Linked DNA regions of Homo sapiens. The protein of the gene in region 1 purifies or fractionates together with the protein of each later gene. This does not show direct contact. Each region holds a gene or a part of one and is shown in the gene's direction. Other genes may lie near its edges. The genes, in order: PHF7, ADNP and PPP1R12A.

Region 1 (3,656 bases):
GGTGCCTTTGTCAAAATCAATTGACCATATATCTGTGGATCTGGATAATCTATTTATGTCATTGATCTATGTATCTATTCTTACACAAGTCCCCACTGTCTTGATTATTGTGGCTTTATAGTATATTGAAATTCAGTATTGTTAAGTTCTACAATCTTTTCCAAGATTGTTTTGACTATCAGGTCCTTTCTTTATAAAGTTTATATTAAGCTTGTCAATTTTTCTTTAAAAAAAAAGTCTACTGGGATTGTGATTGGGATTGCATTGAATTTATAGGTCAATTTGGGAAGAATTGACAAAAAATATTGAACCTTCCAATCCATGGACATGGTATATTTTTCCACTTATTTGGGTCTTTTAAAATATATCTCAGCAATGTTTTGTTGTTTTGGTGACAAAGTCTTGTACATCTTTTGTTAAATGTATTCCTAAATATTCTGTGGTTATGCTATTGTAAATAGTATTTTTATTTCATTTTTAAGTTTATTGCTGGTATATAGAAATGCATTTTATTTTTGTATATTGATTTGTATCCTGTAATCTTGTTAAATTGAGTTTGATTAGTTGTTTTTTTATTTTGTTGTAAATGCCTTGTTACAGGATTCCCTATGCACATAACCATGTCATGTGTGAATAAAGACAGTTCTACTTCTTTCTCTCAATCTTTGCCTTTTATTTCTTCTTGCCTTGTTGTATTGGCTAGGACCTTTAACCTAACATTGAATAGAAGTGGTGTGAGTTGTTATCCTTGTCTTGTTCCCAACATCAGGGGACAGCATCTAGTTTTTCACTATTAAAGTATGTTAGCTCTAGGTTTTTTTCATAGATGTTTTTATCAGGTTGAAGATCCCTTTTATTCATATATAGTTTGCCCAGAGTATCATGAATGGGTGTTGAATTTTCTCACTTTTCCTGTATTTATTGAGATTATCTTGATTTTTCTCTTTAATTTTGTTAATGTAGTTTGTTACATCAACTAAATGCTCTAATGTTAAACTAGTCTTGCATTCTTGGTATAAACTCTACTTGGTCATGATGTATTGTCCTTTTTATATGGTGCTGGATTCAGTTTGCATCTGTTTTGATTTTTATATCTGTGCTCATGAGAAAGATTGGTCTGTGATTTTCCTTTCTTGTAAGTCCTATCAGGTGTCAGGGCTTAGTTATAATTTTGATGTATTTACAAGCATATACATTTTTTACATAAAAATTAAACATTATACAGAGTGCTTTGTATCTTGGCTTTTTTCCATCATATATATTTTGGAAATCTTTCTGTATAGAACATATAGATATAGTTTTTTCTTTTTAGTAGCTAATTTATTAAATCAATACATGCTTATTGCAGAAAACATGAATGATACTTAAAAATATGAAGAAAACAAATCACTCATCCCAAAGCCCTGAGATAATTAGTTTTAAAATATGTGTTTCAAAAGTTCAATTCCTTCCCCCATAATACAGAACAACAACAATCAAGAGATATTAAAACCCTGTTTTTCTTCCTGTATTACTCTGAGAAGAGTATTTTCTCTGTACTAAGAGGTGATGCAGCAGGAAGGGTAAGAATGGGGATTCCATGGGCCTGGGTGTGAATAGCCAGCTCTGCTCCTCCTTGTCCTATAACCCTGGGAGGCAGTGTCACTTGCCACACTGCACCTCAGCGGCCTCCTCTGTAAGATGAGCATCATAATAGCATCTGCCATTACAGGAATTTTTTTTTTTTTTTTTGAGACGGAGTCTTGCTCTGTCGCCCAGGCTAGAGTGCAGTGGCCTGATCTTGGCTCACTTCAACCTCCGCCTCCCGGGTTCAAGCGATTCTCCTGCCTCAGCCTCCCGAGTAGCTGGGATTACAGGCGCGCACCACCATGCCCTAGTTTTTGTATTTTTAGTAGAGACAGGGTTTCACCATGTTGGCCAGGCTGGTCTCGAACTCCTGACCTCAGATGGTCAGCCCTCCTCGGCTTCCCAAAGTGCTAGGATTACAGGTGTGAGCCACCGTGCCTGGCCAAGGATTGTAAGCATAAAATGAGTAAATACAAAGGAAATGTTTCCCCCAAAGTCCCAGCACACAATAGCAGCCCTCAGTAAGTGAGAGGCAGCCTAGAGCAAAAGTAAGAGTCCAGGTTCCAGAGTTCTGTGGCCTTGAGCAGGTCGCATCATCTCTCCTATAAAATGAGGACAATAATAGTACCTACCTCCTAGGGCTGTTGGGAGGACTCAATGAGTTAATATTTGAAACCACTTAGAGTATTCAACACATGGTTGGTGCCATGTAAGCCTTCATTAAATAAATTACCCTGTCAATGCATATATATTCCACCAAGCTCTGTTCTTTTTTTTTTTCTTTTTTGAGACAGAGTCTTGTTCTGTGGCCCAGGCTGGAGTGCAGTGGCACGATCTCGGCTCACTGCAAGCTCCACCCTCTCGGGTTCACGCCATTCTCCTGCCTCAGCCTCCTGAGTAGCTGGGACTACAGGTGCGTGCCACCACACCCGGCTAATTTTTTTGTATTTTTAGTAGAGATGGGGTTTCACCGTGTTAGCCAGGATGGTCTCCATCTCCTGACCTCGTGATCCGCCCGCCTCGGCCTCCCAAAGTGCCGGGATTACAGGCATGAGCCACCACACCCGGCCCAAGCTCTATTCTTTAGCTCTCTTACCCTGTCCTTCTCCTCACCTCACTGCACTGTTTCACTGATCATCATTGTTAACAGCCTGGTTCTACTGCCCCCGCAGATCTTATCTAGTAAGCTGCCTCAGAGGGGCCAGTCCAACAGAGGCTTCCATGGATTTCTGCCTGAAGACATCAAAAAGGAGGCAGCCCGGGCTTCTAGGAAGGTTAGAATCTCTTGAAATGAGGACCTTGGGGTAGGCCTCTTTTCATACCTCACCCATCATTCCTGTTTCTGTTCTCTTCCCTACTTCCTAGTTTAGATGTCAAAGGACTCTTGGATTTTCCAACTAGTCCTTAAGTCCCATATTCCTCTGGGGTATGGGTGTCCTAAGTGAGAAGAGGGAGAAACATCTTGAGAAAATAGGAAAGAACTCAGTGCTGCTTGAAGCTCAGCTTCCGGGTGCCCCAGAGCATTCAGGACCACTGAAGATAGGGAATGGCTATTATTTCACAAAACTTCCATTTAATAGAAAGATGTGCTACACTGTGTGTGTTTGCATTTCTTGGGGTCCTGAGCACTGTCTGGGAACTCATTTGCAGATCTGCTTTGTGTGCAAGAAAAAGGGAGCTGCTATCAACTGCCAGAAGGATCAGTGCCTCAGAAACTTCCATCTGCCTTGTGGCCAAGAAAGGGGTTGCCTTTCACAATTTTTTGGAGAGTACAAGTGAGTGAGGGAAGGGAAAAGTCTGGCTTCCTTTTTGCAACTTATTATTCAGCCACTAATGAAATCAGAGTCCAGTTCTCACAAGCAGGCCTGTTTTGATTCACCAGTGAATCTGTCCCTCCATTCAGTAATAAGAAACAGTGTCTTGACTTGGAGATTTCACAGGGGGTTCTTCTTGCTTCCTGACCCCTCCTTAAATTACAAACAGCTGGGGTTCTTAGACAGCTGCTCAGCACTAAGTGGGGCTTTCAGGAACGAGAGGCTATGGAGACAGTCCTGGGAACTTTGCTCAGTAGGTGAGCAGCCGTGAGAAGG
Region 2 (3,656 bases), on another chromosome or scaffold:
TGGTTGCAGTAGTGGGTTCTGAACACTTATTAACATAAGAAATTACTTACAGCTTTTTTAAGAGAAATTTTTACAGATGCTAATATTGTAATCATTTGCATTCTACACCCCTTTGTATAAAGTATAAGTATTCAGTTACTATTACTTTGATAACCCAATCTCTAGAGTTGCTAAGCTTCTAAAAGCCTTAAATGTCTGATGAAAACATGGTTTTCCATGAACTTGTTCTTGCTACCAAAGATTGACAGTGGTTGATGTTTGTGGGTACCTTTAAGACTTTGTATGTTACATAAATACACCAAGATAAGTTTATGGAGAACTGAATGGGTGTATTCTTTGATACCTAGTTAACCAGTTGGTGCTTAACAGGAGAATTTTTCATTGGAGAATTGCTACCAGGTAACATTTTGGTGAGTGAAAAGGAGGCCCTTTGGTACAGGTATTTGACTAGAGACATTGCTTCTACAATTTCTTAGTCATTGTGAAAAATCACATATTTAAATGGGATTATTTAAATTTTTAAATACTGTATAGTATTTGTAGGCAGGTATAGTTTTTATCTTTATTTGGTGTTTTATATGCAGTTATTTAAGTTCTGAAAATGACCATATAATTTGAAGACAACTTATTTGACGGAATGTTTGAAATGAAGTTTGTTGAGGGGCTTTTGTTTGATTTAGCGAATGGGATACAGTGTTGAATGATGTCCTAAGTGGTAACAGCCATTTTCCCTTAAAGGAAAACTTGCTGTGAGCTCTTAGAAAGCATGTATTCTACTGTTTCAAAGGTTTCTTGGTTTTAACACTCAAAAAATAAGGTGAGGCCAGGTGAGGTGGCTTACGCCTGTAATCCCAAAACTTTGGGAGGCTGAGGCAGGAGAATCACTTGAGGCCAGGAGTTCAAGACCAGCTTGGGCAACATAATGAGACCCTGTCTCTACCAAAAAAAAAAAAAAAGTGAAACAATTGGGCTTGAAGACTGGAATTTATAGTAGGTAAACTATATACTTCATTAAAGTATAGTAAAAGGTTCAATTAACTAGAGTGTGGGGAATGGGTATTCTGTTTAACTGAACTTTAAGTAGAAATTCCTTTTTTATCTTGGCCTTTGTTGAAAAATTTCCTGAGACTAGCTTATTAGGAGCTATATATTGAAACTAACCTCTTTGATTTTGGTTTTTATAGTTCCTGTATAGAAAATATAGGAGATTGGGCTGAAAATCTCTTAATGACCCTTGGCCCTTCCAACCTTGGAAGTCATTGATTTTATACATGCCCACTGTGAATTTGCTTTGCTTTGCTTAAGTTTATCTTTTTCTCCTTATACCAGAGTGCAGGAAGAGTTTTAATACTATTTATATTAAAATAAGAACTTCACAACCTTGAACAGATGGTTTTGGTACCACTTGCAAGTAACCAACCAGTAGGCTTTTATCAGGCAAAAATGGCTTATTATTTATATTTGATTATTAAAAGTATAGGTATATAAGGCATACTATGTGAAGTTGTTGCTTTCCTTGTAACTACTTACACGTTTTGAAAGTATTAAAAAGTTAGTATTTTGAAAACTAAAATACTCAAGTTTATTGATTAAATAAGATGATGCTGGCTACAAATTTTATTTTGAAAATTGCAACTTAATAAGGAAGATAAAGCTGTTTTGTAAAGGAGAAAGTAGAGATTGATACTTCATAGGGTAAAAAAAAGAAAAACTTCAGCATTTATGTTTCTTCTTTTGAGAATCATATATAAGTAACAAAACTGCATAAATTGCAATAGACCTAGGTCACTTGATTTCACAATTGGGTGTGTGTATGTATGTACACATACATATAAAATATATGTAGGTTTTCTAGAGCTGGAAATGATTGTCATATTATTAAATACAGATGAAAAGTTCAAGTATCACGTGTAGTTTGGGGAAAGTACATTTAGTTTTGAGATGTAGTTTGGGGACAATACATCTAAGTGTAGTAAAAAAATACCAGAATTAAACTTTATGTATGTATTTTTTCCAAGTAACCTATTTAAATCTTAGTGAAATAAAGATTTTTAAAGTAATATGAAAGAAAAAAATAGGAAGTTTTTATTTTACAACATTAGAAGCATTATTGTGGTTTACACCAAAGTACCCATGACTGTTGTGTAAATAAGCTACTTGTTCAACCTGGAGTTCCAAAGGAGTTTTTAAAAGAGCATCATAAAGTCAGTTATGTCTTACATAAGGTAAAATAACTTTCAGTGGGAGTTTAACCTTCATTCTCTTGACTGAGAGGCATGTACATTAAGAGAAACATTGCTCCCCTATGTGTAAATAATTTAATTATAGTTGGATTCACAGAGCTTGACTTGTTATTAGCATCGTATAAACTTAAAGTTTTTCCTCCCCTAGTTTTTGTGTGTTGTTTGTTTGTTTGTTTGAGACAGTCTTGCTCTGTCTCCCAGGCTGGGGTGCGGTGGCCCAATGTCGGCTCACTGCAACCTCTGCTTCCCGGGTTCGAGTGATTTTCCTGCCTCAGCCTCTGAGTGGTTGGGATTACAGGTGCCTGCCACAACGCTTGGTTAATTTTTGTATTTTTAGTAGAGATGGGATTTCGCCATGTTGGCCAAGCTGGTCTTGAACTGCTGACCTCAGGTGATCCGCCTGCCTTGGCCTCCCCAGGTGCTGGGATTATAGGCGTGAGCCACCGCTCCCAGCCCCTCTCCTAGTTTTGTAAGAGCTTGTGATAGTAACTGGAGTAAATGCCGTATTTTGCTGATGTACCTCACTGCCAGTTAACACCTTCTATGTTGTTAGTTTGGAAACTCGGTGTTTGAAACTAGTATAAACCAAAGCCCCATGCTAATTAACTGAATTGATACTTTGAATGTAAAAGCTGTTTCTTGTTTTTACTTTGGCACTTTCCACCTTGATTGTTGAGATACTTTATTTGATAAACCGTCCATGCTTTGCCCATTGTGGGTGGCCATTGTGATTTCATGGTTTTTTGTTGTTTGTCTGATCCTGTTTATTAGAAAGTGAGGAGAGGATGATTATGTTCCTTCATCCTCTCAGTGTCTTAGTACTCCCTACACCTGCGTTATGTTATGACCTACCTTTGCGATCTGCCAGTTTTGGGGTCAGCTTAAGTGAGAATTCATATTCTGCTTCACTGGAATGAGAAGGCTCTCCTCACATATTATCATGCTTCTCAAGTTGGTATATATGAGCCAACTTGATTATGTAGTGTGTGTGTGTGTGTGTGTGTGTGTGTATAGGAAGTCACAGATAAAAATTGAGCCAACTGTGGAAAGTGACAGTTTTGATTGCAGGGCACACGTTTTTTTATTCTAATCAATGAAAAATGCAAAATTCATATTACTGTTTTTAGTCCTGGGTCCTGTCATCTCTGTGTATTAATTCAGTCCTCTGCCTTAAGGAGTTCCTTGAGATTTCACTCACAAGCTTTGGTATTATTGATCCCTACCTTGGTTCCAAGACAGCAGCTAGAGAAAGCCTGGAACCTCTCAAGAATTTCAGCAGTGTTCTGGAAATAAAGATTTAGAAAATAAGAGGAAAGCATAGACAACGTTGGATGGAGTTTACAAAGGGAAGCCTGCTCTGAATATATGCCACAGTTTTAGATTTAAGTTAAAGATTTAATTTAAAAGCATACA
Region 3 (3,656 bases), on another chromosome or scaffold:
TAGATCTAGGTATCAAGTTAATTAACCTTAATGAATTACATAAGACAAATGTAATTTATACAGAATTATAAATACTGGAAAGATCAGATGTATTTGCCTAAAACATAAATTATGGGACTATACTCCGTTAAAGGAATCTATTACCTTACTTGAGAATTTATAATAGAACTGTATTAAGGAGCAGGCTTATTTTGTTTATTATGATTCAAGAAACTTTCTGAAGTTTAAAAAACATAGGAACACATTTATTCTAGAATGTTAGTATACTCATAAGTTACATTTATTCAGTATCTGAAAAAAAATACCAGATTTTTCATCTACCATATTACAAGCAACTTTGTCTTAATGAGTAAATTTAATAACTATTTTGAGAGGTGGTATTAATACTGCATTATATAGGATGTACCACAGTTTATTCAATACTAGTATTTATTTCTACAGCATATTCAGTGCTTGAACTATTTTTTTTGCCCATACAGTTTTCTTTCTATACTTAGAAATGTTTCCTTATATCAGAAATTCAGATGAAATTTCTCATCAAGTAATTCTAATATTTTTGCTTTTTTATCAGTTTACTGTGCAGTTGGTTTCCAGGTATTTTATGCCAGCTTACTAGGAATGTATCAGAGTGTCATTGTCACTACACACTCTTAGCCATATTTGGATAAATATAATTTAAATAATATTTGTTTTGACTATTTTGATGTATTTGAGAGCATTGATTATCAAGGTTCTAAATAGCTTATATAATATAAATGCTTGAGACCTCTCAGTGAACAATATTTGAAAGTTTATTTCTCTGGAAGAAATAAAGATATTTCAGCTTATGACACAGTATTAATCTGTTAGAGAAGTTTTAGAAAAAGTCATTAAAATCTGGAGAAATTTTTTTCCTTTCTTAGTAAAATATTATCTGATTCCAGGCTAAAAGAGAAAGAAAACTAATTTGAACAGGCTGATTATTGATTGACATTAATTTTAGAGTTCAGCTAGGAATTGTTGAAATACTGTAAACTATGATAGCTATGTAATTATAATTATTGAATAACCTTTTCTTAATACTTTTAGCATTGCCTATAGTCAGTACCCAAATTAATTTTTACTTATTTTTTTCCCTGTTGTGTAGGAGAAAGATAGTAAAGGAACTAGGCTTGCATATGTTGCACCTACAATACCAAGACGACTAGCCAGTACATCTGACATTGAAGAGAAAGAAAACAGGTGAGTTTATTTTGATTTGCTTTATGCATTCACTATAAAATCTTTATTATCTAGCATTAGAGTTAATACATGAGCATTGTAATTATGTGCGGATATGTATTGTGGGAAGAGATGGAGGATATTCCTGAAGGAGAAAATACCAGGTACATAGTCCTGAGGAGGTGCAGGCTTGGTATGTTCATGAAATAATAGCAAAGAAGATGTGGCTGGAACAGAGTAAGGGGAAAGTGGGAGGAGATAAGGTCATGAACTAGTATGAGTTCTCTAAATATTTGGAACATTTAGGAAAGGGGAAAGAAGAAGGAAAGCCCTTACTTAATCATTTTAGTTTGTTTTAAATATTTTTGTTTAAATATTGTTTAAATATTTTAGTTTCTTCCTGTTTTTCAGCTTATAGAATTTTATTTTTTTAATTTAATTATTTTTATTTTTATTTTTATTTTTTTTGAGACAGAGTCTCGCTCTGTCACCCACGCTGGAGTGCAGTGGCGCAATCTCGGCTCACTGCAACCTCCACCTCTCAGGTTCAAGTAGTTCTCTGCCTCAGCCTCTCAAGTGGCTGGGATTACAGGCACCTGCCACCCTGCTCAGCTAATTTTTTTATTTTTAGTAGAGACAGGGTTTCACCATCTTGGCCAGGCTGGTCTTGAACTCTTGACCTTGTGATCCACCTGTCTCGGCCTCTCAAAGTGCTGGGTTACAGGTGTGAACCACTGCACCCGGCCAATAACTTTTTAATATACTTTTAATCATGTTATAATATCTAATTTTTTTATTTTTTTCCCCTAAGATCTCATAAGCAGTCTTCTATGTTAATATATATTTTTAATAAGCATTTTTTTTGTCGGCACATAACATACTATAAAGTAGATCTTCTGCGGTTAAAGTAAGCATCTCCCCTACTTTATATTTTGTGATCAAAAAGCATATTTCTATAAATATCTGAATTTTCCCCCATACTTAGGGGAAAAATTATACCTTAGGGTATATAATCTTAGTACTGAAATTACTTTATCTTCTTGATTAGTATTCCTAAGTGTCCTCCCAAAGGTTTTTACTAGTTTCAGCTTATACTAATATTTACTAGTGTACCGCTTTCTTAATCCTATTTTAAAATTATGTACCAGAATCTGAAGGGTGTTCTTTTAACAGAGATTCTTCAAGTTTGCGAACAAGTAGTTCATATACAAGGAGAAAATGGGAAGATGATCTTAAAAAAAATAGCTCAGTTAATGAAGGATCAACGTATCATAAAAGGTAATAATACTATTCTTAAGCGGTTTTTATGTATTCATTTATAAAAATATGAGGCAATTTGTTTGGAGCCCTCAGTTTAACATCATTTTAAACAAATATGTGTTTTTATTAAATACGAGTTTTTGTTGTTTAAAACTTACTCTAAACACAGGATATATATTTAAAGATAGGTGATAATTTGTTATGCCTATTATATAATTAAGCTTCAAATATTATGAAATGTTTTTTGGATTGTTACATATTTAAAAGGAACTCCTTTAGAAGGAACTCCTTGACTAGAACAACTTAAACAGGCCAGTGTCTTAATGGATCTAGTTGTCATTGTTGATCTGGAAAGATTTGGCTTGCCCTAGAACTCAGAGCTATGGAAATGCCTTCAGTTGGAATGTTGGTAGTATCATATTGAAGAGGAAAAAAAAGCCCTATAAACAATTTCTTTACTAAAAGCAACCAAAAAGAATAAGATGTGAACAAGTATCATGTAGGCATTGGTTACTTCCGAGGTATCTGACCCATTGCTGAAATAATTTCCTTCAAAAAAATGTCAACGTCTTGTTTTCCCTGGGTAATACAAAACCAAAGTGTGTTTTTCAGGCTCAGCCTGGCATGACCATATGGTGTGGAATAGTTTCAAAAATATGAAATATCAGATCATCTTTGTCTTGTTGAGAAAGTTGGGAGGAGGCACTAAAATGATACACTACCGAATTAAGTGAAATCTTCTAAACTCTAGCAAGTTGTAGATGCAACTCTTGGTGCTGGAGCTGGTGGTGTATTTAGGAACACAGTTTTTAAATTTTTTTTCTAGCCTTGTAATTTATATAATGTATAGACATTAACTATAGAATACACATACAAACACATCCTATATAGATATGACTCTTTTGTTTAGTTGCTCCTTTGGTAGAAGACAAGATGATTTGATTAGTTCTAGTGTTCCAAGCACCACATCAACACCAACAGTTACCTCTGCAGCTGGGCTTCAGAAAAGCCTGCTTTCCAGCACAAGCACTACTACAAAGATTACAACGGGTTCTTCCTCAGCAGGCACACAAAGCAGGTAAGTCACAGATACATTTTGTGCTCAGGTCTACTGTGTGCTTATGTATGTGCATGCGTTTTTGTTTAGAAGATTGTGGGGCTCTGGATTTTTTCATTTATCTTGTTAAATTTATTTG

What was found.
Region 2: the proteins of PHF7 (region 1) and ADNP purify together in Homo sapiens (affinity purification with mass spectrometry, with the first as the bait; one large-scale study listed by BioGRID). This does not show direct contact.
Region 3: the proteins of PHF7 (region 1) and PPP1R12A purify together in Homo sapiens (affinity purification with mass spectrometry; 3 studies listed by BioGRID and IntAct, with this or other methods). This does not show direct contact.

Annotation. Positions count from the first base shown.
Region 1 is NC_000003.12:52,417,095-52,420,750, forward strand, and holds part of PHF7 (E3 ubiquitin-protein ligase PHF7), read left to right. Parts: intron 1-2,738; coding exon 2,739-2,840; intron 2,841-3,216; coding exon 3,217-3,341; intron 3,342-3,656.
Region 2 is NC_000020.11:50,924,861-50,928,516, reverse strand, and holds part of ADNP (activity-dependent neuroprotector homeobox protein), read left to right. Parts: intron 1-3,656.
Region 3 is NC_000012.12:79,806,048-79,809,703, reverse strand, and holds part of PPP1R12A (protein phosphatase 1 regulatory subunit 12A), read left to right. Parts: intron 1-1,126; coding exon 1,127-1,221; intron 1,222-2,373; coding exon 2,374-2,478; intron 2,479-3,370; coding exon 3,371-3,538; intron 3,539-3,656. UniProt on the Homo sapiens protein: Key regulator of protein phosphatase 1C (PPP1C). Mediates binding to myosin. As part of the PPP1C complex, involved in dephosphorylation of PLK1. Capable of inhibiting HIF1AN-dependent suppression of HIF1A activity.